7 linked regions of the Homo sapiens genome follow. The protein of the gene in region 1 interacts with the protein of each later gene in a biochemical or structural test. Each region holds a gene or a part of one and is shown in the gene's direction. Other genes may lie near its edges.

Region 1 (4,309 bases):
ATTGGCATGGTACACATGCACTTCCACTCATTTGTATTGATGGGAGTGATCCCTTTAACCCTAGGTTAGCTAGAGAAGAGAAGTGTGTATTAAAAGAAGTGGTTTTTTTTTTGTGATTGTAGTTAGAGGCTTATTCATATATTTCATGGTGTCATATCTTAAATTATGGCCCTATTTCTATTTTGTAGTGTGCTTTTTATTAGGGATTCTGAATATTCTCATTAACAGTAACAAAACCAACCATCAGGCTTACTTAATCTGAACTTTATAAAATAGAATCTAATGTTATAGTCCTTGTATATCTTATTAGATTTGTTGGACGATTTAAGTCTCGTAAAGAACGAGAAGCTGAACTTGGAGCTAGGGCAAAAGAATTCACCAATGTTTACATCAAGAATTTTGGAGAAGACATGGATGATGAGCGCCTTAAGGATCTCTTTGGCAAGTTTGGTAATGTGTCTTAATTAAATTTTTACACACAAAGCTCTGAATTAGTGCTCAGTGTTAATTTTAGCTATTACTTTATACTAAAAAAGTCAATAAAATTAGACTTACATGGTACTTTAAAATATTTGTGGTTATTTGAATTAAGCTGCTGGCCATCTATTACACTACAAAGTAGTATAATGCAAATAAATAGAATTCTATCCAGGTTAAAGGTTAATAGCATTAGATTAGCACAGTAAGGTATGACTAAGTAATTAGAACAGATTTTAAAATATTTTACTACATTAAGAGGCTGGAGATATATATGTGTGTGTGTGTGTGTGTGTGTGTGTGTGTGTGTGTAATTAGAGATCCCATGTCATCAGAAGCATATATTTGACACAGCCAGCCTACAGTGGAATGCAGTCTCATAGAACAATAAAGCTGGTCAGTCTAAGTAACATCATGTTTGAGCAGTTTAAAACAATGACTTTCAGCGATGAAACCAAAAATTCAGATTTTCCAGTGATTCAAAGTACTTATTTCCTGCATTTAAAAATAACTTCATAAAACTTGAAATTGATGAAGCACAAACCAGCCTTAGTTTAGGTAGGGGTATAACAGATAAAATAACTTTTAAGTGTTCATGTGCAGATGATTTGCTTGACCCCACCCTTTGCATTTTGTGTTGAACTTAGAGGTGTCTTGCTTTTTTTAATATGTCAAATAATAAAGAATTAGGAAATCTAATACTTTTTTTTTTGACTCTTGCTCTGTCACCCGGGCTGGAGTGCAGTCACGTGATCTCGGCTCATTGTAGCCTCCGCCTCCCGGGTTCAAGCAGTTCTCCTATCTCTACCTTGAGTAGCTGGGATTACAGGTGTGCGCCACCATGCCCAGCTAATTTTTGTATTTTTATTAGAGACGGGGTTTCACCGTGATGGCCAGGCTGGTCTCCAACTCCTGACCTCAAGTGATCCAGCCACCTCGGCCTCCCAAAGTGCTGGGATTACAGGTGTGAGCCACTGTGCCTGGCCAGGAAATCTAATATCTTACTGCCATGCTAGCATGTCACATCAAGCCCTCCACTAGAGCAAAAAAGTACCATTTTGCACAAAGATAGATGATATAAAACATAGAAAGTGACATCATGTTTACATCTCAACCCCCAAATTTAGCTACTGCCTTTTATATATTTCAACTGTCATGCTTCTTAATGTCTTATAATTAGAAGCTGTTTGTAAAAGTTGATGTTAACTACCTACCGTATGAGTAATGCTGCATAAGTTGACCACAAATATGTGAATATGTCATATTTTCTTGACTTTGGCCTCAGGAGAGAGGCACATTCAGAAGAAAATCTGCCTTGGCCCATACATCTTCTAAATTTCTGTAATCAAATGTGATTTTTAACCTTTTCTGCCCCACTTGCCTGAGATACCACCCGCCTCAGTTACCTGTCTCTCCTACTTTAGAGGGAGTTAGGGGAAAACATGTCTTCAGAAATAAATGCTTCCTCTTCCAGGTAGTTCACCTGTGTCTTTAAAAAGAATTTTTTTTCCCTGTCTTTCAAATTCCTGTATTACCTATGTCTTACCAAAGAGTCCAACTATGTATTCCTTCCACTCCTGTTGAAAGTCGGGTAGGCCAAGGCTTAATAAATACTTGTTTCTTAATTGATACAAAGAAAATCAAATTGGTCTTAGCACAATAGCTCATGCCTGTAACCCTAGCGCTTGGGGAGGTCAAAGAGGGAAGATACTTGAAGCCACAAGTTTTAGACTAGCCCGGGCAACATAGCAAGACCCTATCTCTACAAAAAATAAATTAGCCAGGCATGGTGGTATGTGGGCCAGTAGTCCCAGATACTTGGTAAGTTGAGGCAGGAGGATCACTTGAGCCCAGGAGTTGAGTTAAAGTGAGCTTATTCATTGTGCTGCTACACTTCAGCCTGGGCAATGGAATGATATACTGTCTCTATAGAAAAGGGAAAAAATCAAATTATTGGGTAAAAAATGCAACTCTTTTGTGCTAGAGCTGAGAATAAAACTTTTTACAGCCGTTTAAAGTGTACCTCCTTAAATGGAAGGAGGAATCCTTCAGGGGAGGGAAGGTGTTTACCTTCTTAATAATAAAAGGTCTTTCAATGGAAAAGTATACCTACCTGGGGCATAGAAGGCTGGGAGGGAGGAGTCAAGTTACGGAGCTTTGAAATTTTTTTCATGGCTTTGTATGTTGAAATTTGAAATGTATAACGTGAATGTTGTATGGAATATCTTTGATTTATGTAAAAAAATTTTTTAGGGCCTGCCTTAAGTGTGAAAGTAATGACTGATGAAAGTGGAAAATCCAAAGGATTTGGATTTGTAAGCTTTGAAAGGCATGAAGATGCACAGAAAGTAAGTGGTCTGTATTCAGCAGGAAGAAGGGGGTACAAAGTTGAGTTGCTCTTGTGTTGAAGTCTATGTGCATACTAATAGCTATTTGACATGTTCTTATATTTTCAGTTATTTGCATTTTATGCATTAGGTTTGAGAGTATAAATTGGTAACCTATATTGTCCCAAAACCTTGAGATTTTGGGATGGGTTTGTCTTTAGCTTTTGTGACTTAACAAATTTGTCTTAACTGTTAAGGAAATGAACTGTAAGTTGAAAGTTTTGTGATTTTTTTTTTTTCTTTTTTTTTGGGGGGAAGGCTGTGGATGAGATGAACGGAAAGGAGCTCAATGGAAAACAAATTTATGTTGGTCGAGCTCAGAAAAAGGTGGAACGGCAGACGGAACTTAAGCGCAAATTTGAACAGATGAAACAAGATAGGATCACCAGATACCAGGTTCATTTTTAATTGAACAACCAAAATAAGACAGGGATGAGGAAACCTATTTTACGTTGATTTCAGTTACTTCCAGGTAGCTGGAGGGTTTGAGAGGGGAATAGGAGAAGAAATATGGGGTAAAATAATAGACCCGATGTACTTAGGTACCACCATGGTTTTCTTTTTCTATAGTTTTCTTTTCTTCTTTTTAGGGTGTTAATCTTTATGTGAAAAATCTTGATGATGGTATTGATGATGAACGTCTCCGGAAAGAGTTTTCTCCATTTGGTACAATCACTAGTGCAAAGGTAAGAAAACATATGGTTCATTTATTTGAGGTCTAGTAAAAATTCATACATGTAGATATATGTATATAAATTTTGTATTATTATAGCCACTAGAGAGGTGTTTGCTTCGTTACTTCTAAAACTTAAATTCACATTTGAACTGGTTGTCATAGCCTAATGGTTAACTTAAAAATGGCAAGCACTGAACTCTTTGCTAAGGAAGGCTGATATCCTCACATGATATGCACTATTCCAACAACTAGTCATTTTGCTAAAGCAAGCAATTTATTAGGGACTTATAATTGTTACTATAGTTCTGATCTGTTTATTCATTTCTACAATTCATTCTGGGTAGTCAAGCCCCAGTTCCCTCCCCTGCCCCCTAGCAGTAAGAATAGAGATCATATTTTCTTTTATTTGAAATCAGAGATTAAGAAACAAAGCAGTAGTATTCTAGTACAAATTCTGAAATCTTGATTTAAGAAGTTCTCTTCTAGATGTTTTTGTCTAGCATCCGTGGGCCAAGAGTCCCCCTATATGCAAGGTTTTGTGCATACATAATTTTGCTGGGGTTGGGGAAGAGTGCATAGAAAAAAATTACAACTCAACTGAACTGGAATGACGCTGTGGCTGATCTTTCTAGTCAGCTTTTCCTGGCAAGTCCGAGGAAGCTTCTGTGAGAGTGAGGAAATGTTAGGGGAAAGGTGGTTGAATACAAGTAAGATGGAAGTGCCATGGTTGTCTTGTGTTTCAGATTATGCTTTTTATGTAAGAGTATTG
Region 2 (4,309 bases), on another chromosome or scaffold:
GAAGGCATGAAAGGAAAAACAAATATCAAAGAGATTGTAAGGCAGTGTGTACTAAGGATCCAATGAGAGGGGAGCATTTCTTGCAGGTTAAAAGTGTTCTGAGGAAGGAGAGAGGTGATTAGGTGGGCAGATGCTTCCTTCATCTCCATCTCTAGCTGTGTTTCCTTTTTCACAAAAAAGAATGTATCTGTCTTTACCCATAGTGCTCTCTCCAGGAAATCAAGGCATTGTATTCATTGAGTAACCATTTTTTGAGCATTTTCGATATTTCAACTGTGGGACTGGGCACTAAGCCAGGGAAGAATGTAAGTAGTTAAATTTATTGATTGCTTACTATGTGCCTGGCACACTTTTCCTAAGATTTTACATGGACTCATCTGATCCTTGAAAAACCCTGTGAGGTAGGTAGTATTGTTATCTCCGTTTTACAGATGGAGAATTTGATGTATAAAGAGGTTAAGTAACTTGGAGGAGACCATATCACTGGTAATTGGAGTAACTTTTTAGGCTTCGAACTTGCAAAATTTGAAAATTTCTTTTGGTAGGCGGGACCCACAGATGCATGCAATACTTCTAGATCAGTTTTTTCATCTGGGCACTTGACATTTTGGACCAGATAATTTATTATTTTGAGGGTTGTTCTGTGCATCACAGGATGTTCAGCATCCGCAGTAGCACTCCCCGTCCAGTTGTGACAATCACCAATGCTTCCAGATATTGCTAGATGTCCCTGGGAGTGGCGCAGAATCGACCCTGGCTGAGAACCACTGCTCTAGATCTTCATTAGGAATTGTAACGTGAAAGCCTCCAAACTTTTAGATGTTGAGTTAATTTAAACATCTTTTGGTCGAGTGCTGTGGCTCACACCTATAATCCCAGCACTTTGGGAGGCCAAGGCAGGTGGATTGCTTGAGGTCAGGAGTTCGAGACCAGCCTGGCCAACATAGTGAAACCTCATTTTTACTAAAAATACAAAAATTAGTTGGGCGTGGTGGCATGCGCCTGTATTCCCAGCTACCCGGGAGGCTGAGTCAGGAGAATTACTTGAACCCTGGGAGCGGAGAGCCGAGATTGTGCCACTGCACTCCAGCCTACTTGACAGAGTGAAACTCTGTCTGAAAAAAGAAAAAAAAATCTTTTAATAACATGGAAGCCTAGACCCTATTATGTAGATCCTCAATTTGGAAGCCCTGGTTTCTGAATGTCAAAGATGTGTTGCCATTCTCCTTTTCCTCTGCTAAGCTGCAAATCCTCAAGACAGTGTGCCTGGTAGCCAGTGCCAGTTAAACAACATTGGCACAAATAATAAATTTAGTTTACTATCATAGGTAAACTGTCTTTTAAAATTCACAGTTGGCCATTAAAATTGTCACATTATGTTAGTATCATGGGAGCCATAATATCTACATGAGGGCGATTACCATTAGAACTGAACTTTGAAGAATGGAATCAGTTTTGAAAGGCAGATAAAAGGGCATTGTAAGAACAACAACAGAAGTAAGGACACAAAAATCCAGAAAGTACAGGAGATTTTGATATTGCAGTGGGTAGTTCAGGTTATATAAGGTATTTGTAGCAAACTGGTTAAGGCCAGATATAGAGGTTCTTGAATGTCAGGTTGAGGAACTTGTGCATAAATTTTTAGGTATGGGAGCTATTGCATGCTTTTTGTTGCGTACTGATGTGATAGAATAATCTTCTGGTCTGGGATTACTAACCAGGTGTATTTATGGGAGAAAACTAGCGATCTAGGCAAGAAGCGATGGAGGCCTGAATTGAAGTGGTGGCAAAAAGAGGTGAGTGAGGCTGGACCCAGTGGCTAACGCCTGTAATCCCAGCACTTTGGGAGGCCAAGGCAGGAGGATTGAGCCCAGGAGTTTGAGACCAGCCTGTGCAACATGATAAGACTCTGCCTCTACAAAAGAATTTTAAAAAATTAGCTGGGTGTGGTGGTGTGCACCTGTAGTCCCAGCTACTTGGGAGGCTGAGGTGGGAGGTTTGCTTGAGCCCAGCAGTTTGAGGCTTCAGTGAGCTGAGTTTGTGCCACTGCATTCCAGCCTGGGAAACAGAGTGCAACCCTGTCTCAAAGCAAAAAGAGAGAGAAAGGAAAAAAAAGATGAGTGTATAAGATACTGAGGAAGTTAAGAATCTGGGATTTGACAGCTGATTAGGTGTCAGAGGAGTCAAAAATACATAGGAATCTTCATCATGGGTGAATGAGAGTTTGACCCAACCTCTGAACAGAACAAGTCAGAGCAGAAATAGGAGTTTGGGGAGAGAAGATGCTAAGTTACATTTTGCAGTTGTAAAAAAAAAATCTACCAGTACTGGTCTAGACCAGTAGAACTCAGCTGGTCTAGTCTGAAAAAATATTTTGGAGGCCAGAATCATAGAATCATTGAATATTTAGAGCTGGACTATGACTTTAGATAGAGATCAGCCAGCATTCTGACTTCTTCATTTCTCAAGTGAGAAAGCTGTGGTTGAAACAGATTCAGTAACTTACGCAAGTTTATATTCTCTGTCAAGTGACCCAGCTGGGATTTAAACAGGCCTTTTGACTCTAATTCTAGTATTCCTCCCATGTGCAGTATTTTATTTTATATTGCACAATAGATAAAATATAATTTTGGTTTCTCCTTTTTTATTCTAAAAGAGTAAAAGCAGTTATCTCAATATGTTATGTTCATTCTAGTGATGACTTTACTATCATGTACTAAATGTGTTTTGTTTAAAGTAGAAGTTAACTTCACGTTATACTGATTTGTCCCCCCATAAACCAACTGTATGTCATCATATAACAAAAGTTGTTAAAAGTGCTATATACCATATAATGTTGCATCTAAACTGGGACACTTATCTGAGATGCTTTTGCGTGGGACAAATGCTATATTAGAAATGACTAGGACTGGCCAGGTGCAGTGGCTCACACGGGTAATCCCAGCACTTTGGGAGACTGAGGCACGTGGATCATTTGAGGTCAGGAATTCAAGACCAGCTTGGCCAACATGGTGAGACCCCGTCTCTACTAAAAGTACAAAAATTAGCTGGGTGTGATGGCATGTGCCTGTAATCCCAGCTACTTGGGAGGCTGAGGCAGGAGAATCTGAACCTGGGAGGTGGAGGTTGCAGTGAGCCGAGATTGTGCCACTGCGCTCCAGCCTGGGCAACAGAGTGAAACTCTGTTTCGAAAGAAAGAAAAGAAATGACTAGGACAGCAGGAGTAAAACCCCAAGGCATTAGGTCTCCGTAGCTAAGGTGGATCCCACTCATGCAATTCATCAACCTTTGTCTGAAAAAAAAGAAAGAAAATCTGATTTTGTTAAGCTTTTCTTTTGCTTTGCTGTGATACGGTTTGCAGGCCAACACATGCATATTGCTATAGGTTGGTGCGAAAGTTAATTGTGGTTTTTGCTCATTTTTAATGTACCAACCCAATATGCTTTTTTTCCAGCTTAATTTGGCAATTAGGTGGTAAATCACTTGATAGGATAAATTAATCACAATCTGTAAACTTAATTTAAAAATGTGTAACAACCCTCTGTGGAAAATTTGAATATAAACATCAAAAGAATACCATTCTGTAAGCTCTTTTGATTTTTGGCATCTGAAATGTCTGAAAGTATAAATTGCAAAACATATTTACAATTTTAATGACAACTGCAAAAGTATTGCCCATGATTGGAAAGACTAAAATGGTATGCGTTATATGTATTCTGTTCAGGCTGATGCATGATAAATCTCTCACTGAAAAAACAGAAATCCCTATCTCATTTTAAAATTTTAAAAAATTGGCCGGGCACAGTGGCTCATGCCTGTAATCCCAGCACTTTGGGAGGCCGAGGTGGGCAGATCACTGGAGGTCAGGAGTTCAACACCAGCCTGACCAACATGGTGAAACCCCATCTTTACTAAAAATACCAAAATTAGCCTGGTGTGGTGGCACATGCCTGTAATCCCAGCTACTTGTGAGGGTGAGGGAGGAGAATCGCTTGAACCTGGGAGGCGAGGGTTGCAGTGAGCCGAAATTGCGCCATTGCACTCCAGCCTAGCCTGGGCACAAAAGCAAAACTCTGTCTCAAATAAATAATCAATCATTCTAACCTTAAGCAAAATTGGAAAAATGTTGCAACTAATACCTGTATCTCTTTACCTAGTTTTAGTGATTATTAATATTTTGCCACATTTGTTCTATCGTGACATTGCACACCAAAGTATGGCAGTAGGTATCTCACAGAATAAGGGCATTCTACCTGACAGCAATCAAATGATCACCCACAGGAAGTTTAACTTTACAATTCTGTCTGGT
Region 3 (4,309 bases), on another chromosome or scaffold:
CTCTGGTCTTATACCTGCTGTGAGGAGAGAGCAGTGTTGATGCTAGCTGCATCAGTTGGTTGAACATATAGGCAGCTTCACTTGGTTCTGAAACCCAAAGCTGCCTCTGCAGGGATTAGCCTGTGAGCCACACTGTGCTCTTAATTTGGGTTTTCTGACTTTTCTGTTTTTGTAGATCCCTTATACATATGCATACTTTTTCTATTTGTGTTGTTTTATACACGTTTATCTCTGTATACTATCTAGACATGTGCATGTGTAGGATTAAGAGGTGGGTAATGAAAAAGAAGACAACATGGCCAGGTGCAGTGGCTCATGCCTGTAATTCCAGCACTTTGTGGGGCGAAGGTGGGAGGATCACTTGAACCCAAGAGTTTGGGACCAGCCTGGACAACATGGCGAGACCCTGACTCCACACAAAATAAAAAAAAATCAGCTGGTGTGGTGGCGTGTACCTGTAATCCTAGCTGATTGGGAGGGTGACATGGGAGGATCACTTGAGCCAGGAGGTTGAGGCTGCAGTAAGCCATGATCACGCCACTGCACTCCAGCCTGGGTGACAGAGTGAGACCCTGTCTCGGAAAAAAAAAAAAAAAAAGACAACATGGTTCAGTGCAGAAAGAATAGAGGACTTGGAAAGAAAAGATCTGGGTTCCGATTTGATTTTGCCACTGACAAGCTGTGTGACTTTCGGCGAGTTATTTAATCTTGCCAGACCTCAGTTTATACATCTGTAAAATAGGTAAGTATTGATTCCTGTCTCCATCCCTGGCATTGTTGTGTGGATCAAATAAAATAATACCTATTAAATCTTTAGAAAAGGAAATGAATTCATGACTTAAAATGTTATCTTGGCCAGGCACGGTGGCTCATACCTGTAATCCCAGCACTTTGTTTGGGAGGCCAAGGTGGGCGGATCACTTGAGGTCAGGAGTTTGAAACCAGTCTGGTCAACATGGTGAAACTCCATCTCTACTAAGAATACAAAAATTAGCAGGGTGTGATGTCATGTGCCTGTATTCCCAGTTACTTGGGTGGCTGAGGCAGGAGAATCATTTGAACCCAGGAGGTGGACACTGCAGTAAGCCAAGATCGTGCCACTATACTCCAGCCTGGGCAACAGAGTGAGAGTCTGTCTCAAAAAAAAAAAAAAGAAAAGAAATGTTATCTAGATCCACAAGGTGAGAGAAGTTGAGAGTAGTATTGTGAAGGAAAACATGAGGACAAGACAGATCACTTTAAAAGGTCAGGAGAGAAGGAAGACTACTGGGTAAGAAAAAAAAAGTAGAACATAAAGTTAAGCAGTAAGAGAATAGGGAGTGAATGAAGTTGAGCAGGTGAATTGTTAGATAAGAAAGCTGAGGCTGGGCGCGGTGGCTCACGCCTGTAATTCCAGCACTTTGGGAGGCCGAGGCGGGTGGATCACGAGGTCAGGAGATCGAGACCATCCTGGCTAACAAGGTGAAACCCCGTCTCTACTAAAAGTACAAAAAATTAGCCGGGTGTGGTGGCGGGCGCCTGTAGTCCCAGCTACTCAGGAGGCTGAGGCAGGAGAATGGTGTGAACCTGGGAGGCAGAGCTTGCAGTGAGCCGAGATCACACCACTGCACTCCAGCCTGGGCAACAGAGCCAGACTCCGTCTCAAAAAAAAAAAAAAAAAAACTGAATAGGAAGATACTGGTAAAATAGAACTAAAATATGATCCAGCATTGCCACTTTTGGGTATATATCCAAAGGAAATAAAATCACTTCTTCTTTTTTTTTTTTTTTTTTTTTTTGAGATGGAGCCTTCCCCAGGCTAGAGTGCAATGGCACGATCTTGGCTCACTGCAGCTTCTGCCCCCTGGGTTCAAGTGATTCTCTTGTCTCAGCCTCCTGAGTAGCTGGGACTCGGGAGGCCAGGCGTGCACCCACCACACCTGGCTAATTTTGTATTTTCAGTAGAGACGGGGTTTCACCACATTGGCCAGGCTGCTCTTGAACTCCTGACCTCAGGTGATCTGCCCGCCTCTGCCTCCCAAAGTGCTGGGATTATAGGCGTGAGCCACTGAGCCCGGTCCTGTTCTTTTTTATAATCAAGAGAAAGGAAGGAGATGGTGGAATGATTTGTGATAGCTACTATAAAGCAATTTAAAAAATATTTAAAAGTATTATTAAAGTATTTAAAATATCTTTAAAATATTTCTCAGCATATCCATTTCATCTCAAGCTCACAAAGCAGTTCTTTGTGGAAAGGTATTTGAGCCAACATTCAGGAAACCTGCGTTCTACCATTGGTATTACTGGTCACTTAAATTCTGTGATCTTGGGCAGCTCACTTAAATCTCCCTGGGCCTGGTTTCCTCACTTATCTATTGAATGTTTTGAATATGATTTCTCAGGTTCTTTCCAGCTCACTCTATTATATTCTGTGCTTTATGTGCTAACTCACTGATTTTTCATGGCTTTGTTGACATCACAATATATGACTGATATCAGAAATATCTTATAATAAGGCTTCGGCCGGCCGCGGTGGCTCATCCCTGTAATCCTAGCACTTTGGGAGGCTGAGGCGGGCGGATCACGAGGTCAGAAGATCGAGACCATCCTGACTAACATGGTGAAACCCCGTCTCTACTAAAAATACAAAAATTAGCTGGGCGTGGTGGCGGGCGCCTGTAGTCCCAGCTACTCGGGAGGCTGAGGCAGGAGAATGGTGTGAACCTGGGAGGCGGAGCTTGCAGTGAGCCGAGTTCACGCCACTGCACTCCAGCCTGGGCGACAGAGTGACAGAGGGATACTTTGTCTCAAAAAAAAAAAAAAAAGGCTTCATAATGTCTGATGCTTTATAAATGAGAAACCATGTTATTTTAAGTTCTACTTTTTTTTTTTTTTGAGAGGGAATCTAACTCTGTCACCCAGGCTGGAGTGCAGTGGCGCAATCTCAGCTCACTGCAACCTCCGCCTCTCGGGTTCAAGCAATTCTCCTGCCTCAGCCTCCTGAGTAGCTGGGATTACAGGCACCCGCCACCATGCCTGGCTAATTTTTTGTATTTTTAGTAGAGATGGGGTTTCACCGTGCTAGCCAGGATGGTCTCGATCTCCTGACCTCGTGATCTGCCTGCCTCAGCCTCTCAATGTGCTGGGATTACAGGCATGAGCCACCGTACCCGGCCTTTTAAGTTCTACTTTAAACATTGGCACTGAGAGACCTGTAGGAAACGTAAGTATAGAAAGTTTAAGTTTGTAATATTTGACAAGGATCTGTTGAGCTGCTATTGTGCTAGGTTCCAAGGGGTACTCAAATATAAAACTCCTGGTTTAAGGATTTTGTCAGGAAAACAGACTTCCTTGCCAGTGATTGATTATTATAAAAAGGAAGTTGGTAAATGTTACAAGAGTTTCATTGCATTGCAATTTAAGAAATTAAGTTCAGATTTTTTGGTTCCTTTAACATGATTGAATGTATTCCTTTTTTTTTTTTTTTTGAGACGGAGTTTTTCTCTTGTTGCCGAGGCTGGAGTGCAATGGTGCAATCTCAGCTTACTGCAGCCTCCACCCACTGGGTTCAAGCGATTCTCCTGCCTGAGTCTCCCAAGTAGCTGGGATTATAGGCATGTGCCACCACGCCCAGCTAATTTTGTATTTTTACTAGAGATAGGGTTTCACTGTGTTGGTGAGGCTGATCTTGAACTCCTGACCTCAAATAATCCACCTGCCTCGACCTCCCAAAGTTCTGGATTACAGGCATAAGCCACTGCACCTGGCCAAATGTATTTTTTTTTTTTTTTTGAGGCAGAGTCTTGTTCTCGCCCAGGCTGGAGTGCAGTGGTGTAATCTTGGCTCACTGCAACCTCCGTTTCCTGGGTTCAAGCCATTCTCCTGCCTCAGCCTCCTGGGTAGCTGGGATTACAGGTCCCTGCCACCATGGCCAGCTAATTTTTATATTTTTACTAGAGATGGGGTTTCACCATATTGGCCAGGCTGGTCTCAAACTCCTGACTTCAGGTGATCCGCCTGCCTTGGCCTCCCAAAGTGCTGGAATTATAGGCATTCGGCCTAACATAATTGAATGTATTTTAAGTGCTGCTGTATGCTAGACATTGCAGGGACTTATGGTGAAAAAGCAATCTCTGCCCTCCAGCAACTCGCATTTTTTTTTTCCATGTCTGGAAATTGCTTACCCTAATAGATCTATCCTTCTGTCCCAGAAAAGAGAAGAATTTTAATACTATGTCGTCACTTACAGGTTAAGAATTCATCTACATATTGAGCTTAACTCACTCCAGAAATATCTACTAACTTGCTTGCTTTCTGAGAAAATGTTTAT
Region 4 (5,071 bases), on another chromosome or scaffold:
CAAGCCACCATCCCGGTCTGGATCCTGAATTTTTAATCACTGCATTACACTGGATACTGTACGCCAGGTATGGTGGCTCATGCCTGTAATCCCAGAACTTTGGGGGGCCGAGGCAGGAGGATCGCTTGAGCTTAAGAGTTCAAGACCAGCCTGGGTAACGTGGCAAAACCCCACCTCTACAGGAAAAAAAAAATTATCTGGGTTTGGTGGCCAGTGCCTGTAGTTACAGCTAGTTGGGAGGCTGAAGTGGGAGGATCGCTTGAGCCCAGGAGGTTGAGGCTACAGTGAGTGAGAGGGCCAATGCGCTTAAGCATGGGCAACAGAGTGAGATCCTGTCTCAAAAAAAAAAAAAAAAAAAGGCTGGGCGCGGTGGCTCACACCTGTAATCCCAGAACTTTGGGAGGCCGAGGCAGGCAGATCACCATCTAATATTACTGTATTAGAAACAGTAATTACAGCTGAGCTAAATAATCTATGTCATGGATGCTCTTGTGTCTCCTCACAGTATCCTTTTTTCTTTTCTTTTTTTTTTTCTTTTTTTTGAGACGGAGTTTCGCTCTTACTGACCAGGCTGGAGTGCAATGGTGCCATCTCGGCTCACTGCAACCTCCGCCTCCCAGGTTCAAATGATTCTCCTGCCTCAGCCTCCCAAGTAGCTGGGATTACAGGCTCCCGTCACCAGGCCCGGCTAATTTTGTATTTTTAGTGGAGACGGGGTTTCTCCATATTGGTCAGGTTGGTCTCGAACTCCCGACCTCAGGTGATCCGCCCACCTCGGCCTCCCAAAGTGCTGGGATTACAGGCGTGAGCCACTGCGCCCGGCAGACATGGATTATTTAGCCCAGGTTATTAGGGATCTGTAACTCTCATGGGTCTGTTAAGTCTTTCTCAATTTGAGACCTCAAGATGGAGATTTCTTAAAGTGTAGGAACTGTCTATGTCTCTCAGCATCCACCTTTTTCGGAGATTCTATATCTAATGACCTGCGAAGTCAGATCAAATCAGTTTGAGAGACCATCTGTGTTTTTCTCTTGGTCTAGGCTCTAGGTAGGATCTCTGACTGGGTATAGGACCCCACCCCTCTGAGTCCTAGAAATTTAAATTCTTGGTTCCTTTAATGAAGGTCTATTTACCAGCCTTTATTGAGAGAAATGTTATAGAATTGAATCCTCCATGAGGAATGTCTCCCATCAGAGTCCCTTTATGTGGCCTTTAGAAACAGTAATAACAGCTGAGCTAAAGTGCTCTGAGACATCTCACAACCTAGACCCATTTCAAAGTAATTAGAGTTCACAGGACCCACGAATCCTTCAGAATAACAAGTCCCAATTTGCCATGCTCATCCCCCTCTGAGGGATAACGTCCAGCCAGCCTCAAGAGCTAGGGGAATTTGATAACCAGGGGCATCTTGTTACCCGGGAATGTTACCGGGGTCTCTGGGGAGGGAACAATCACGGATGGGAGTTTCAGATGGATGCCTGTAGAAGATGCAGCCACTTGGACTGTGTCAGGAGTCCGGCTCCCGCTTCCTTTTTTTTCTCTCCCATATCTGGAAATAATAGGAAATGCCAGCGAGTTTTGGGGGCAACAGGGTCAGAGGTGGCGGAGTGGCTCACTAGGGCACCGCAGGAAGAGGAGGTAGACTAAGCCCCGCTGGGAATACCCAACAGCGACTCCTAGTGCTTTGCCTTGTGTGTCCCTTATTTTAGAGTTCCTAAAGTTATAGAAAGCATAAAAGTTTGGTTTTCAAACCTAGACGTAATTTTGTTCAAGAAGACTAAAAACAGAGTTACTTTCTAACGCCACCCAACAAGTCCGGCGTCTGGCTGCGTTTGTCCCACCGGCGCCCCGTAACCTCTTTTTCCGGCGCGTGCGTCACACGCTCTCTCCTGGGGTCGCCGTACCTGGCTCCTTCTGATTGGCTTAGATGCGCCCGGAGCCCTTCTGATTGGCTAAAATATGCCCCGAGCCCTTCTTGATTGGAAGAAGCGCCTCGGACCCCGGTCCTTGGCGCCGTAGTGGTTAGGTTGAGCCCTAGGCGTGGGGGAGAACTGGGGAAACTGGAATTTCCCGCGGAGCTGACAGCGCTTGCGCTCCCCCTACTCGTTCTAATTCCACGCGCTCCAAAATATCCGCCATGGAGAAATCTTGGTAATGACCCATTCCCCGTAAGCATCCCAGGAACACATCTGACCCTTGCCCTATCCCCCTCCTCACCGCTGCCGTGGGAGAATTCTAGATAACCGATTTTTCTGGTTCCCCCAGAGAATTCTGGGTAACTAGCCGTTTCCGTCACCTTCCCCTGCCCCCGCCCCAATTGTGGGTAACTGGCCATTATTGTTTTCCTCTAGAGAATCCTGGGTAGCTATTGGAGAGGATTCTAGGAAACTGACTTCTCGTTCTCCCCACCGTCCAATCCACCCGTTTTCACCCCCAATTCTGGGAGAAAGCACCTTAAATCCCTCTACCTAACTCCAACCCCCGCAATTCTCGCTCCCTTCACCTGATGATTCAGGGCTGAACAAGGCAAGTGAGCAGTCCGAAGTGAGAAGAAAGGGAAGTCAAGGATTAGGTTAGATAATGGGGTGGTGGAGAGTACAGAGGGCCTAGCGGAGGAGGGATAGGGACAACAGTTCTACCACCTCCACCCCCACTGCCCATCCCTCCCCCGCCTGCTTCATCCTTTGGCTGGCAGTCTCATCCCTCATGCCTGCCTCATCTCCCTCCTGCCCCCATAACCTAGAAGACCCTAAGTACCAGTACCTGGGCCTACCCTTGACTCAGCTACCTCTTTCCCCTTACAGGCCAGGATGTCCATTCTAGGCCCATCGGTGCTGTCTTGCTGAAGGTTGGGTCAGGCATCTAAAGGGACTGTGGTAAGGGAGGGTGTGACACAGGTGTAAGCTGCCATCGTCATCATGAACTTTGAGGGTCTGGACCCTGGACTGGCAGAATATGCCCCAGCCATGCATTCTGCCCTGGACCCTGTCTTGGATGCCCACCTGAACCCAAGTCTGCTACAGAATGTGGAGCTGGACCCAGAGGGAGTGGCCTTGGAGGCTCTTCCCGTCCAGGAATCAGTGCACATAATGGAAGGTGTCTACTCTGAATTGCACAGCGTGGTGGCTGAAGTGGGTGTACCTGTTTCCGTCTCCCACTTTGACTTGCACGAGGAGATGCTGTGGGTGGGGAGCCACGGGGTAAGAACTGTACCCCTTTGTGAGGGTTGAAAGATGTTGAAGGTCTTTATCTGGTCTTAACCCAAGGAAGCTGCTTTGCAGATAGCCAGTACCGAGGAGTTGTAGTGATGAGACAGCTGGGTCTGGTTGGAGGGATAAAGGGAGAATCTAGGATCTAGGAGTAAATGACATATTCTTTCTCAGGAGGCATCCCTTTTTTTTTTTTTTTTTTTCGAGACAGGGTCTTGCTCTGTCGCCTAGGCCAGAGTGCAATGGCGTAATGTGATCATGGCTCACTGCAGCCTCAATCTCCTGGGCTCACACAATCCTCCCACTTTAGCATCTCAAGTAGCTGGGACTACAGGCATGCGCAACCAAGACCAGCTAATTTTTAAAAAATTTTTTAGTCTTACTATGTTGCCCAGGCTTGTCTCAAACTCCTGAGCTCAAATGGTCCTCCTGCATAGAGCTGCCAAAGTGCTGGGGTTACAGGTGTGAGCCACGGCACCTGGCCAGCATCCCACTTTTGTCACAATTGCCCATCCAGTGTTTTGATTTATCTTGATAGTTGTACCCATCACTTAGTCTGTAGCCATCCAAATCTAATCTCAATTGCTGTTGCCCCACCTGTGTTTTCTATTTTTATTATTATAGAATATTTAATGAATGATTCTGCATATCTTCCATTGAATCATTTTGTCTTCTCTGGCTGATTTTAATATCTCTCAGAGCAGTTATCAATCTTAATTTTTTAAAATCTGTACCCGTATTGCCAATATGCTATGGTGCCCAAAGACTTTGTAAGAAATACTGTGCTGTCCGGCCGGGACCGGTGGCTCACTCCTGTAATCCCAGCACTTTGGGAGGCTGAGGCAGGCGGATCACGAGGTCAGGAGATCGAGACCATCCTGGCTAACATGGTGAAACCCTGTCTCTACTAAAAATGCAAAAAATTAGCTGGGCATGGTGGCAGGCGCCTGTAGTCCCAGCTACTCGGAAGGCTGAGGCAGGAGAATCGCTTGAACCTGGGAGGCAGAGGTTGCAGTGAGCCGAGATCACGCCACTGCACTCCAGCCTGGGTGACAGAGCGAGACTCCGTCTCAAAAAAAAACAAAAAACAAAAAAAAAAAAAACGCTGTCCTTCATTTACTGATTGACTTCTTTGGTCATGAATTGTTTTTCCATTAGAAGGGATGAATTTTTGTGTGTGATTCATTCAGTTTAATAGGCAGTGTCTACTGCTATGCTAGGCACTGTGAATAAAGCTAAATAAAACATAATCCTTGCCCTCAAGGAGTTTACAGGACAGTGAGGTAAAAAACATATACAAAACCAGATAATTTCATGGTACTAAGCGCCAGTGTGAAAATCTGTACTGGATGCTGGACAGGATGGAGAATAGTCAGAAAGGGCATCGAGGAGGAAGTAACCCTTGAACTGAGTCTTGCAACATGAGTAGAAATCAGGTGAGAAAGATGGGAAAAGGCGTCTTAGCATAGGATAAACAAAGATTCCCAAGATACTACAAAGCTTGCTGAGTACAAAATTCAGGAACTACAAGCAATTAGGATTTACCGGACTGGAAGAGGTAGACATTTATTCATTCAACCAGTGTTTTTTTGAGCCACATGCTAGGTGTCAGACCTTGCCCTAAGGTCTAGGTTTGGAATAAGCAGTAAACAGAAAAACATTACAATACATCAGGTGTTGATTAGTACTGTTAAGAAAAATGCTGGCTGGGCATGGTGACTCACACCTGTAATCCCAGCACTTTGGGAGGCCGAAGCAGGCGGATCACCTGAGGTCAGGAATTCAAGACCAACCTGGCCAACATGGTGAAACCCCCGTCTCTACTGAAAATATAAAAATTAGCTGGGTGTGGTGGCAGGTTC
Region 5 (4,309 bases), 1.7 Mb from region 1:
GTTGGGCACTTTGATTCATTTTTGAGCATTCCTTTTGCTTCAGCTATTTGAGAAATTTACAAGTAATGTATCTTTTTAAATGCTAACTCTTCTTTTTCCATTCCTAGTATAAACAATCAGCTTTGTTTGATTCTTCTATCATTATACAACATTAAAAATATTTAGATCATAGTGACTTTTAATTTCATGAAATTAGGAAAAAAGTAGACTTGAGTCATAACATGTGCATCAAGGTGGCAGATATTTGAAAAATAGAAAGGTGCCGTAGGTGAAATTATAAAGAGCTATATGGTTGTATCTAGTAGCGGTAAACATGTCTTGCCTTTTGAGATTTGTGAAGGCAGCATTTAAGATAGGCACATATCCTAAGTTTTGAAGTAGCTGATTTGTGGCAGGAGCTGTTCTGTGTTTCCCTTTCAAAAGGAGGGCTCCTTTTTGCATACCTACTTGTAATAGGATCAACCTGTCACTTGAGAAAAATCTGTTTCCAAAAGAGACTGGTTTTCTGGAACCTTTTAATTAACTAGAATAAGCGTATTTTCATCTAAAGATAAAAACTTTACCAAGTTTTAGTAAGTTGGGGCAATAAAAAAGCTACTGCTACTGTAGCTTGACTTTTTTTATTATGAGAAATGTATGAGAGTCACAAATAAAATGATAATCATAGTTATGTATGAAAAGGGTGTAAATAGACTTTATACTTTGGAATAAAAGTAGTAAGATTAGACAGGCAGAATGGTACTGCAAATAAATTGCTCAGCTGAAGAAAACTTGGTCCTCAAAACAGTAGTGTTTTCTTCAAATACGTTTTCTTTCTTTACCCACATCCTCTTAAAAAGTCAAATATTTTGTTCAGCATCATAGTCTGATGTCTCAAGTGTCTAAAATGTACAAAGCATAAAAAAGTATCTTTTTTTCATAATTTGTGTTTTCAGACTTGCCAATAATGAATAATAATGATGCCAGGATGAAATTGACAAATACAGGTGGGGATGGCTGGGGTGGAAAGAAGAGGATGTTGGCTGTGACTTCCCAGAATGATTACAAGGTGCCTGGCACAGAATGCTGGGCCCTCAAGCAAATATTCATTGAGCTGAATTGAAACCATTCAGTGCTCAGATACTTTGGACATTTTGATCTCCTTTCCAATGGATTTCTTGAGTTAGTACTACGTTCCTGCTTAAAACATTGTCTCAGAGAAACAGTAAAACAATATAAAGAATGTGGTTCGTCGAGCTTGAGGGGAGAGCTGAAAGGCCTGCCTCACTAATAGCCTGGAAAGTGCCTCACTAATGAGCTGAAAAAATAGGCACAGAGATTTACAGTGTTTATGCAGGGATACAACTACTGAGAGACAGCTGAGGTCCACCTGATGGGTCTTCTGACTTTTCTTTAAAGTCCAGGGCTCCATTCCACTTCACGTGGCTTGTATTCCAGAATGGTTCTGCTGTCTCAGACATCCCAGCCTTCAGGCAGTGTGGCCACCTGTCTTAGTGTTTTGATTCCGTTTTCCCCTCAACTGCTCTTTCCAGGGCTCCTAATGGGTTTATGCCTTTTTTTCAGAGGCTGACGCTCTTAACCTTTTCTTGGTACTAGGTTAGGATAGGTCTTCTTAAGGTGATGTGGTTATGGCATTTATTGTCCTTGTCCTGAATTATTCCTCAAGATGCAGGTTAGTTACGAAACAAACCAGTTCTTATTGCTTGTCTGTATGTGGAATTTTCCTGTGAGATTTGCCTTTTGGCATTACAACGTATTGTGCAGTCATAAACAGTCTTTATTGAGATTGTCATATCAAAAGGATTTTTCTCTAAGCTTAGAGTTTCCCTTTCAGGTGTCATAACACAAGGTAAGATACTATAGACAGGAGTTTCAAACTCTGCGCTGGTAGCCTAGTCATTTAACCTCTTAGAACCCCCCACATCAATCTCTGAATTAGGTGTAGCACTCTCCTCAAGGTCAGGGAGGAACAGTTGAGACAGTAGATGGGAAAAGATCAATATTATAATGTGGATTCTACGGAAAACATTACGAAGAGATGGTTACTTTTAACTTTTTACGTGTTGCCTGGTTTCCAGATAGCAAAGCAGGAACTCAAAAGAGTTGCCCTAGAATATCCTTAGCATTCAGAGCAGAATCGACTCTTAGTTCTAGATTAGTACTTCTCAGCTTGGTGTGATTTTGCACCCTCCACACACAACCCCCTCCCCTTATTGGGCAGTGTCTGGAGACATTTTTTATTGTCACAGCTGGGGCATTGCTACTGGCCTCTAGTGGATGGAGGCCAGAGATGCTGCTAAACATCCTATAATGCATAGGATAGCCCCCACAACAAAGAATTACGGGGTCCAAAATGTCAGTTGTGCTAAGGTTAAGGAAGCCCATCCTAGATGATCTTCAATGCATTTGGTTGTAAAAATAAGTGAAAATGACTTTTATGAAGAATATTTCAAGCAATATACGTTCTTTTTTTTTTTCTTTTTTGAGACACAGTTTTGCTTTGTCTCCTAGGCTGGAGGCAGTGGCCGGATCTCGGCTCAATGCAACGTCCACCTCCTGGGTTCAAGCGATTCTCCTTCCTCAGCCTCCCAAGTTACAGACGCATACCACTATGTCTGGCTAATTTTTGTATTTTTAGTAGAGATGGGGTTTCGTCATGTTGGCTAGGCTGCTCTTGAACCTAACCTCAGGTGATCCATCTGCCTCAGCCTACCAAAATGCTGGGATTACAGGCATGAGCCAATGTACCTGGCCGCAATATATATTCTTAATTTTTAAAACATGACTGTTTAAATTAAGATTAAGGCCCGGCCAGTGGCTCATGCCTGTAATCCCAGCACTTTGGGTGGCTGAGGCGGGCGAATCACTTGAGGTCAGGAGTTCGAGACCCCTTAGCCTGGCCAACATGGTGAAACCCCATCTCTACTAAAAATACAAAAATTAGCTGGGTGTGGTGGTGGACGCCTGTAATCCCAGCTACTCAAGAGGTTGAGGCAGGAGAATTGCTTGTGCCTGTGAGACAGAGCTTGAGCCCGTGAGGCAGAGGTTGCAGTGAGCCAAGATCGCGCCACTGCACTCCAGCCTGGGCGACAGAGCAAGACTCTGTCTCAAAAAAAAGGAAAAAAAAATTAATTAAGATTGATTAAAATTAAATAAAAATTTAAGTCACTTCATCTGTAGCTAGTCACATTTTAAGTGCACTGTAGTGCCACGTAGCTACTCACTACCACATTGGACAGTGCAAATACAGAGCAGTGCCATCATCACTGAAAGTTCTCTTGGATAGTGTTGGCATAGAAAGTGTGTTTTTGCACAAGTCTTGGCATTCAGTGAGTGCTCATTATGTTTATTAAGAACTTTGAGGTTTTAAAGACTCAGGCATATCTTCACTCAGTAGGAGCCAGAAAATATGCCAGGGATTATATGAAGCATAACAAAGGTTGTGGTGAGTAGAGGTTATAATAGTTGAAAGCTGCTTGAAATTTTATTGTGGTGCACCAAAAAACAAAAAAACAAAAAAATCAATAAAAAAACCCCCCAGACATTAGGTTGTGTGGGATGGAGCATCATATTACCAAATCAGTGAAAAATCTCACCATTTGATTATTGAGATTGTTACCTAAAAGCAATACTAAATGCATTATGCCAGGTGCGGTGGCTCATGCCTGTAATCCCAGCACTTTGGGAGGCTGAGGTGGGCGGATCATCTGAGGTCAGAAGTTTGAGACCAGCCTGGCCAACATGGTGAAACCCCATCTCTACTAAAAATACAAAAATTAGCTGGGCATGGTGGTGCATGCCTGTAGTTGCAGCTACTCAAGAGGCTGAGGCAGGAGAATTGCTTGAACCTGGGAGGTGGAGGTTGCAGTGAGCCAAGATTGCGCCACTGCACTCCAGCTTGGGTGACAGAGCGAGACTCCATCTCAAAAACAAAAACAAAACCAAAAACAAACAATAAAAAACCAATACTAGATTTATTGTATTGGAAAAGTACAGTCTGGCCTAACTAAAATGTTTAAATGAATTTGCTTAAGTAAGATTAACAGCAGGGTGTAGAATAGCCAAGCAAAATAGAAAATCAAAACAAAGGCAGAGCAATTTTATAAATCAGGATATCTGTGACTGAATCATAGGCCTAGGAATAAACAGACACTTGTGAAGAAAATTACAGGATACACAGGAATACGACTAGGAATAATAGGTGAAATTAGGAAAGGTCAGGGTTTTTTCCCCTAACAATTAGACCATTAGGTTATTTAGGAAATAGTTTCCAAAGGAAAATTTAATTGCTGAAGACTGAGTTACATGG
Region 6 (4,309 bases), on another chromosome or scaffold:
GATGCTTTTGCGTCAGCCTCCCGAGTAGCTGGGATTACAGGCGCCTGCCACTACACCCAGCTAATTTTTTGTATATTTTAGTAGATACAGTGTTTCGGCATGTTGGCCAGGCTGATCTCGAACTCCTGACCTTGTGATTCACCTGCCTCGGCCTCCCAAAGTTCTGGGATTACAGGCATGAGCCACCGTGCACAACAGCCAGTTTTGACTCAATGGGCAAAATGAAAATTTAGGTCCATTGCCCACTTTATACAATGCTGTTGAATTAATATGGGTGACAGAAAAATGGCTTTCATTCATTGACGTTGGAATTTGTTTTTTAAAAAACTTAGAAAATGATCTGTTTACTCATTCATTCTGCAAATAATTACTGAGTGCTTTTCACATGCCAGGTGTTGATAAGTACAAGTACAAGCCTAGCAGTAGTGTGAAGATTTTCTCCAGACACGACTGCTGAAGTTAGAGAATAGATGCAAGGGGCTGGCTGGTGCTCAGGGTGTTGGGGGGTTAAAAAGGGTGGACACCTAGAGAGATAACAGCTTCTGCAAAGACCACGGGGCACTAGTGGACATTGGCATATTTGGGGAACAGCATAGAGAGTACTTTGACATGGTTGGAGTGTCGTGTGCTTAAGGGAAGAAATAATCTGAGAAATGAGAGGTAAGCTGAAAAACTAAGCCTTGACCAGATGCAGAAGAGTGTATAAGCCACGTTTGAAAGTCTTTTTCCTGAGAACAGTTGAAGGGTTTTAAGTGGGAAAGTCACTTGTTCAGATTGGATTTTTGAAAGACGATTCTGGTGTGTTGTGGAAACTGGCTGGGACATTGCACGTCAGACCAGATGATACTGTAGTAATCTCAGGTCATAGTGGCCTGAACTGACAACAGAGTTGGGGACAAATGAATGAGTTCCAGAGGCATTTAGGAAGATTTTGGAGGAGTTGGTCATTGGGTATGAGAAGATGGGGTTGGAGAAATGTAAAATAACACCTGTGTCTCTGCCTGGCTTCTTGTGGGAATGGTGCCACCATTCGTTGAGTTAGGGTGCATTTAGATGAGGCACAGGTGTGGGGTTGAGATTATGAGTTCAGTTTTGGAATCATTGAATCCTGAGATATCCAGGTGAAAGGCTGGAGTAATTACAGGTCCGGTCTGGAGATAAAGACTTAAGAGTTACCAGTAGTTCCAAATTTACCAAATTTTTTTTTGTTCTTTTTGAGACGGAGTCTTGCTCGCCAGGCTGGAGTGCAGTGGCACAATCTTGGCTCACTGAAACCTCTGCCTCCCGGGTTCAAGCGATTCTCCTGTCTCAGCCTCCCGAGTAGCTGGGATTACAGGCATGTGCCACCACGGCCAGCTAATTTTTGTATTTTTAGTAGAGACGAGGTTTCACCATGTTGGCCAAAATGGTCTTGTTCTCTTTACCTTGTGATCCACCCACCTCGGCCTCCCAAAGTGCTGGGATTACAGGTGTGAGCCACCACACCTGGCAAGATTTTCCTTTTTAAGTTGATTTCTTTGGTAAGGTGTCCAAAGATGGCATACCTGTACTATGCAGTGCAAGGTGCTGTTCAGTGCTATTAAGGGAATACTGTACTATTTTATAAAGATAAGGCCATATACTCTCATTACCATAATGATTATTAGAAGTACCAAAGGAGTTTGAGGGAGGAGAGACACTGATTTTAACTGTGTTGATCAGAGAAAGCTTTGTTGAGGACTTTGTATTTGAGTGGAACCCTACAGATTGGGCAGAATGGTGGTGAGTAGACTCATGGCAGGCTGTATTAGCTAGAGTAAGGTGGAGGAGGACTAGGTGTGTCCAGGGAGGATTGAGGGGAGGTTGCACACGTGTACAGGAGCTGAGTGCCTGCTGAGTAGTTTGTATTGCTATGGTAGACGGTGGGGACCTGTTGAAAATTTGATGGCAGTGCAGTGAGAATTTTGATATGGCAGTGGTGCAGAGGAGGACTTGGTGGGGGGGCACTGATTAAAGGAAGAATTGAGAGACAGGCAGGCCAATTAGGGGATAAAAGGACTGTTATGAAAGGTCCTGCTATAAGGCTATGGCCATGCAACTAGGGACCAGGTTTTTAAGGTGAATGATGGGAATCTTCAACCAAAAGGAAGATGACGCATTCCAGGTCAGACTTACTGAATTGGAGAATTTGGTGGGACTTGGCAATGGAACTGGTTAGCAGGCAGCTGGCAGTGTGGATCTGCAGCTTGAGAAAGAGGTCAGAAGTGGAGATAAAGACTTGGAAGGCTTCCACGTGGAAGTGATAGTCGAAGGTAAGGGAGAGGATGAGGTCACCATGGGACTGTAAAGAATAGAAAAAAGAACTGAGAATGAGACCTTGGGGACGGGAAGAGAAAGAGGACCTGGGAAAGGATAAAAAGAACGGTGGCTCTGAAGGACAGTCATTCCTCATCACAGAAGATGAGGGAAGAACTGTTCGATCACAGGTGTGGGCAGCAGTTCAAATGCTGCACAGGAAGAAAAGTATTTGGTTATGGCAACATTCCCGAACCTGGTGTTGGGAGGTGTTCCAGTGTTGGTATGGGAATCATTCGATGGCGCCAGCACCGCCCAGTAGGAACAGAATGCAAGCCACGTGTGTTATTTTAAATTTTCCAGGAGTCACATTAAAAAAGTAAACAGTCCAGGCACGGTGGCTCACACCTGTAATCCCAGCACTTTGGGAGGCCGAGGTGAGCGGATCACAAGGTCAGGAGATCGAGACCATCCTGGCCAACATGGTGAAACCCCGTCTCTACTAAAAATACAAAAATTAGCCGGGCGTGGTGGCGGATGCCTGTAATCCCAACTACTTGGGAGGCTGATGCAGGAGAATTGCTTGAACCTGGGAGGCTGAGGTTGCAGTGAGCCGAGATCACGCCACTGAACTCCAGCCTGGGTGACAGAACAAGACTCCATCTCAAAAAAAAAAAAAAGTTAAAAATAAAAAGAAATAAGTGAAATTAATTTCAGTAATATCGACTTTATTTATGTAAAATATTGTTAATTCAACATATTATTGATTTTAAAATGTTAACGCAACATTTTACGTTTTTTTTGTACCAAGACTTTGAAACCTGGTGTGTATCTTAGGCTTACAACACATTTCAGTTCAAACATAAAATTTTCATTGGAAATACTTGATTTGCTTTTAGATTTCATAAAACTTACTACTTTTTCATGGAAAAGTAGGTTCACATACCCACGTTTTTCCAAACATAAAAAAGTTTTCCAGCAATGGAAATGTCAGTTTTTAAATTTAAATTAATTAAAATACAGTTAAAAATTCAGTTTGAGTGGCACTAGTCTCATTGCAAGTGCACAGTAGCCACGTGCGGCTACTCTGTTGGACAGCACAGGGAGGGTTATGCGAAGTAAAATAGGCTACTGTACAGCGGATGTGCACTCTGAAAATACCCAAAATGGTTTAGCACCATCGCAAAGCATTTCACAGGATTAGTGTTTCTTAGAATACATGTTGGCTTATCCTAGTGGAATTTTTAGAATTTAGAAGGGTCAAATCTCTAATTTTGAATGTGAGGAGACAAACTTTTTATGAAAATACACAGATTCCAAAATTTGAAATAGTGTTTGGGCTACAGTCAGCAGAATGGTACATTGGTAGAAGTTCCTAAACATACCGGTTTGTGCCATGTTTCTGAAATGCTTGGTGCAGAGGCTTACACTTAAAAACAGATCCAGCAGGAGGGGTGGGAGCGTTCCTGTTACTGTTTGTGAGTTTCTTTTGCACTCCCTGGAGTCAGTGAGGTGGTGGCTTCAGGTGGGGGGATGAAGTTAGGATTGCTTTAAGTCAGTGTCCCAGCGTCCCTGTGTGGTGGAGGTGTGAGGTGGGAGAGGGTGCCACCAGGCTAATTATGTTGTGCTTGTCTCTCACTTTTCTTATCTCACTTTTCTCCGTTTAGCCCCGTTTAGTCATTGTGTACTTTTTGCCGACCTGGGCCAATTGAACGCATATTTACTAAATATGGGTGGGTTTTTTCAGTTTATAAAAAGCAGGTTCAAAGATTTTCATTTAATTATCTCATTGATTGAGACTGCTTTGCAGCTGTTAACTAGACCATCTAAGTGATAACCAGTAAAGATAGAAAGGATCTTGAATCTGGCCGGGTACGGTGGCTCACGCCTGTAGTCCCAGCACTTTGGGAGGCTGAGGCGGGTGGATCACCTGAGGTCAGGAGTTTGAGACCAGCCTGGCCAACATGGTGAAACCTCGTCTCTACTAAAAATACAAAAAATTAGCTGGGCGCCTGTAATCCCAGCCACTTGGGAG
Region 7 (4,116 bases), on another chromosome or scaffold:
ACTTCATAGCTTTGGGAAGGGTTTTTTTCCTTTTAGTCATCTTTTTCAAAGCCTAATTAAACAATTTAAGTTCAGCACTATAGAAACTTGATGGCAAATTACGTAAGGGAAGGATTGTATTTAATGATGGATAACTTCATTAATTTCTCTCTCTTTTTAAATCTCTCATTAGGTGGCTATGGAGGCTTTTACAACAGTGATGGATATGGAGGAAATTATAACTCCCAGGGGGTTGACTGGTGGGGTAACTGAGCCTGCTTTGCAGTAGGTCACCCTGCCAAACAAGCTAATATGGAAACCACATGTAACTTAGCCAGACTATACCTTGTGTAGCTTCAAGAACTCGCAGTACATTACCAGCTGTGATTCTCCACTGAAATTTTTTTTTTAAGGGAGCTCAAGGTCACAAGAAGAAATGAAAGGAACAATCAGCAGCCCTGTTCAGAAGGTGGTTTGAAGACTTCATTGCTGTAGTTTGGATTAACTCCCCTCCCGCCTACCCCCATCCCAAACTGCATTTATAATTTTGTGACTGAGGATCATTTGTTTGTTAATGTACTGTGCCTTTAACTTTAGACAACTTTTTATTTTGATGTCCTGTTGGCTCAGTAATGCTCAAGATATCAATTGTTTTGACAAAATAAATTTACTGAACTTGGGCTAAAATCAAACCTTGGCACACAGGTGTGATACAACTTAACAGGAATCATCGATTCATCCATAAATAATATAAGGAAAAACTTATGCGGTAGCCTGCATTAGGGCTTTTTGATACTTGCAGATTGGGGGAAAACAACAAATGTCTTGAAGCATATTAATGGAATTAGTTTCTAATGTGGCAAACTGTATTAAGTTAAAGTTCTGATTTGCTCACTCTATCCTGGATAGGTATTTAGAACCTGATAGTCTTTAAGCCATTCCAGTCATGATGAGGTGATGTATGAATACATGCATACATTCAAAGCACTGTTTTCAAAGTTAATGCAAGTAAATACAGCAATTCCTCTTTCAACGTTTAGGCAGATCATTAATTATGAGCTAGCCAAATGTGGGCATACTATTACAGGGAAAGTTTAAAGGTCTGATAACTTGAAATAGGTTTTTAGGAGAATTCATCTACTTAGACTTTTTAAATGCCTGCCATAAATGAAATTGAAATGGTAGAATGGCTGACCACAGCAATGACCAGCCCTCATTAGGGCCCTGGATGATTTTTGGTCTAATAACGCATGCTAGTGTTGATGTTTTTTGGTCAAGAGGGTATGAACAGGAAGAATTAAATGCAGCAGGCTTTATTTTAAATGCCGATTCACATTACTCTGTTCAAGCTGCGTTGAGATGTTAAACTGGCTTACTATAGACTTCGTAAAAATGGCTCCAGAAGAGTAACAAACTGAAATCTTTGAGATCACACAGGTTGGAAATATGTACATAACTGCACAAGGTGTCAATTCTGCTCTACAGTGCAGTTTTAGTCAGTTTTAGTTGCATAGGTTTCCATTGTATTTATAGTCTGTTTATGCTAAATCTGGCCAAAGATGAGCATTGTCCACCACTAAAATGCCTCTGCCACTTTGAATTCTGTGCTAATTTTGTGGCCAGAATGCGGTGATCAAAACGCTCCATCTTTTTACAGTGGCATAGGAAGACGGCAAAAATTTCCTAAAGTGCAATAGATTTTCAAGTGTATTGTGCCTTGTTCTAAAACTTTTATTAAGTAGGTGCACTTGACAGTATTGAGGTCATTTGTTATGGTGCTATTTCAATTAGTCTAGGTTTAGGCCCTTGTACATTTTGCCCATAACTTTTTACAAAGTACTTCTTTTATTGCACATTCAGAGAATTTTATATATATGTCTTGTGTGCGTGTCCTTAAACTTCCAATCTTACTTTGTCTCTTGGAGATTGTTGAACGCAGCTTGTCTAGGAAGGGGATGGGACTAGATTCTAAAATTTATTTGGGACCATGGGAATGATAGTTGGGAAGAAAACTATTTGCACACGACAGATTTCTAGATACTTTTTGCTGCTAGTTTTATGTAATATTTATTGAACATTTTGACAAATATTTATTTTTGTAAGCCTAAAAGTGATTCTTTGAAAGTTTAAAGAAACTTGACCAAAAGACAGTACAAAAACACTGGCACTTGAATGTTGAATGTCACCGTATGCGTGAAATTATATATTTCGGGGTAGTGTGAGCTTTTAATGTTTAAGTCATATTAAACTCTTAAGTCAAATTAAGCAGACCCGGCGTTGGCAGTGTAGCCATAACTTTCTGATGTTAGTAAAAACAAAATTGGCGACTTGAAATTAAATCATGCCAAGGTTTTGATACACTTGTCTTAAGATATTAATGAAACACTTCAAAACACTGATGTGAAGTGTCCAGATTCTCAGATGTTTGTTGTGTGGATTTTGTTTAGTTGTGTGTTTTTTTTTTTTTTTCAGTGAATGTCTGGCACATTGCAATCCTCAAACATGTGGTTATCTTTGTTGTATTGGCATAATCAGTGACTTGTACATTCAGCAATAGCATTTGAGCAAGTTTTATCAGCAAGCAATATTTTCAGTTAATAAGGTTTCAAAAATCATGTAAGGATTTAAACTTGCTGAATGTAAAGATTGAACCTCAAGTCACTGTAGCTTTAGTAATTGCTTATTGTATTAGTTTAGATGCTAGCACTGCATGTGCTGTGCATATTCTGATTTTATTAAAATAAAAAGTTGAACTGCACAGTCTCCTTTGTTGTTGTCAATTGTGGTTTATTTTCAGAGGTGTAAATAAAGTGCTCTTGCCTGAAAAATTGTAAAATGTTATTTTTTGCTTGTCATCCAGTGCTATTTTTTGAGATGCCTCTTGGATACAGAATGACTCATACCATAAGTATTTGCAATGAAAGATGAAGATAGTATTAGTTTGAAATACAGTGAAACAGGATTTTTGTAATAGACGGAAATCTAAAAGGCCCTTACTGATAATACAGCATGTATTAGAAATTGGCTTATACTTTGAACAATTTGACATGGGTGGGAGTCTCTTTGTTCTTTGAAGTATCTATTATGAAGGATGGTTGAACAGTGGAAGAATGAGCAGGATAAAAGTCAAGTGTGTCAGTAGTCCAACAAGTGATGGTAAGTATATACTTAGGGAAGGAATCAAGACTATTTGGGCCAGGTGTGATGATTACATAGTCCTATAGTGCTAGTTTACTTGGAAGCTGAGGGGCAGGAAGATTGCTTGAGCCCACGAGTTCAAGTCCAGCCTGGGCAACGTATAGCAAGACCTTATCTCTGAAAACAGGTAATAAGACATCTATGCTTACTGTACACACTGCTGCAATAGGCTGCTACCACAAGTGTATAGGTGCTTGGTTAGATTGAGCCATACTAGCGGTTTGATACGTTTCAATCTAACAAATACGTATTCAGCTTTTGTTTCAGTAAGTTGAAGGTTTGCAGTATGATTAAGAATTTTTTGCATTGTAAGGAAGTATGGTTCTGGATAATCTTTCCAGTCATGAACTCAAAATAAGCATAAGTTTTTAGGGCAGAATTTTGACACATGGCCATATGTATTTTGAAGATAGAAAAGATGATGGTACTTGAGTCTCGATTTAGTCAAAATAAGCATGGAAAGGTTTGGGATTGCTAGATTGGATAGTCAATGGCTGAAAGTGACTCATGGAGTGAAACGATGCTAAGGAGAGTTCAGTTTCCACTTTATGTGAATGATGAGTGAACATGACAATCTGCTCTGGAGGAACTGCCAAAATTTGAGGTTATTTCTAGTCTAGCATGGTTAGGATTATGGTGACATAAATTTAGTATGTTTACATACTACATTAATGTGGTTTAATTTTAATTACACTTAAATGCAGTTGTCACTCTTGGGCACTGTTGATGTGTTTCCTGGATTCTTGGCTGAATTTCAAGATTTTTAAAATGGCTTTATAGGAGCTGTGTCTAACCTTCATGCTTAAAATGTTTCCTTTGCTCCTATGCTCTACGTGACCTGCTTGAGTGGCCACAGGCTTGCTCTTTAGAGCACAGTGACTTTGTTGATAGGGCCTCACTACTCCCACAATGCAGAGATACCTACTTATTGTAGGTACA

The links.
Region 2: the proteins of PABPC1 (region 1) and TNRC6A form a complex in vitro, tested with the Homo sapiens proteins (2 studies listed by BioGRID, with this or other methods).
Region 3: the proteins of PABPC1 (region 1) and ITCH form a complex in vitro, tested with the Homo sapiens proteins (one study listed by BioGRID).
Region 4: the proteins of PABPC1 (region 1) and PAN2 are reported together in a solved structure, tested with the Homo sapiens proteins (2 studies listed by BioGRID, with this or other methods).
Region 5: the proteins of PABPC1 (region 1) and UBR5 are reported together in a solved structure, tested with the Homo sapiens proteins (one study listed by BioGRID).
Region 6: the proteins of PABPC1 (region 1) and TNRC6B form a complex in vitro, tested with the Homo sapiens proteins (one study listed by IntAct).
Region 7: the proteins of PABPC1 (region 1) and DDX3X form a complex in vitro, tested with the Homo sapiens proteins (one study listed by IntAct).

The regions. Positions count from the first base shown.
Region 1 is NC_000008.11:100,711,603-100,715,911, reverse strand, and holds part of PABPC1 (polyadenylate-binding protein 1), read left to right. Parts: intron 1-310; coding exon 311-450; intron 451-2,730; coding exon 2,731-2,825; intron 2,826-3,122; coding exon 3,123-3,260; intron 3,261-3,454; coding exon 3,455-3,550; intron 3,551-4,309. UniProt on the Homo sapiens protein: Binds the poly(A) tail of mRNA, including that of its own transcript, and regulates processes of mRNA metabolism such as pre-mRNA splicing and mRNA stability.
Region 2 is NC_000016.10:24,732,090-24,736,398, forward strand, and holds part of TNRC6A (trinucleotide repeat-containing gene 6A protein), read left to right. Parts: intron 1-4,309.
Region 3 is NC_000020.11:34,369,525-34,373,833, forward strand, and holds part of ITCH (E3 ubiquitin-protein ligase Itchy homolog), read left to right. Parts: intron 1-3,177; exon of another isoform or gene 3,178-3,202; intron 3,203-4,309. UniProt on the Homo sapiens protein: Acts as an Acts as an E3 ubiquitin-protein ligase which accepts ubiquitin from an E2 ubiquitin-conjugating enzyme in the form of a thioester and then directly transfers the ubiquitin to targeted substrates.
Region 4 is NC_000012.12:56,330,942-56,336,012, reverse strand, and holds the start of PAN2 (PAN2-PAN3 deadenylation complex catalytic subunit PAN2), read left to right. Parts: upstream 1-2,012; 5' UTR 2,013-2,151; intron 2,152-2,294; exon of another isoform or gene 2,295-2,526; intron 2,527-2,804; 5' UTR 2,805-2,918; coding exon 2,919-3,200; intron 3,201-5,071. UniProt on the Homo sapiens protein: Catalytic subunit of the poly(A)-nuclease (PAN) deadenylation complex, one of two cytoplasmic mRNA deadenylases involved in general and miRNA-mediated mRNA turnover.
Region 5 is NC_000008.11:102,405,928-102,410,236, reverse strand, and holds part of UBR5 (E3 ubiquitin-protein ligase UBR5), read left to right. Parts: intron 1-4,309. UniProt on the Homo sapiens protein: E3 ubiquitin-protein ligase involved in different protein quality control pathways in the cytoplasm and nucleus. Mainly acts as a ubiquitin chain elongator that extends pre-ubiquitinated substrates.
Region 6 is NC_000022.11:40,183,798-40,188,106, forward strand, and holds part of TNRC6B (trinucleotide repeat-containing gene 6B protein), read left to right. Parts: intron 1-4,309.
Region 7 is NC_000023.11:41,347,468-41,351,583, forward strand, and holds the end of DDX3X (ATP-dependent RNA helicase DDX3X), read left to right. Parts: intron 1-172; coding exon 173-252; 3' UTR 253-2,807; downstream 2,808-4,116. UniProt on the Homo sapiens protein: Multifunctional ATP-dependent RNA helicase. The ATPase activity can be stimulated by various ribo-and deoxynucleic acids indicative for a relaxed substrate specificity.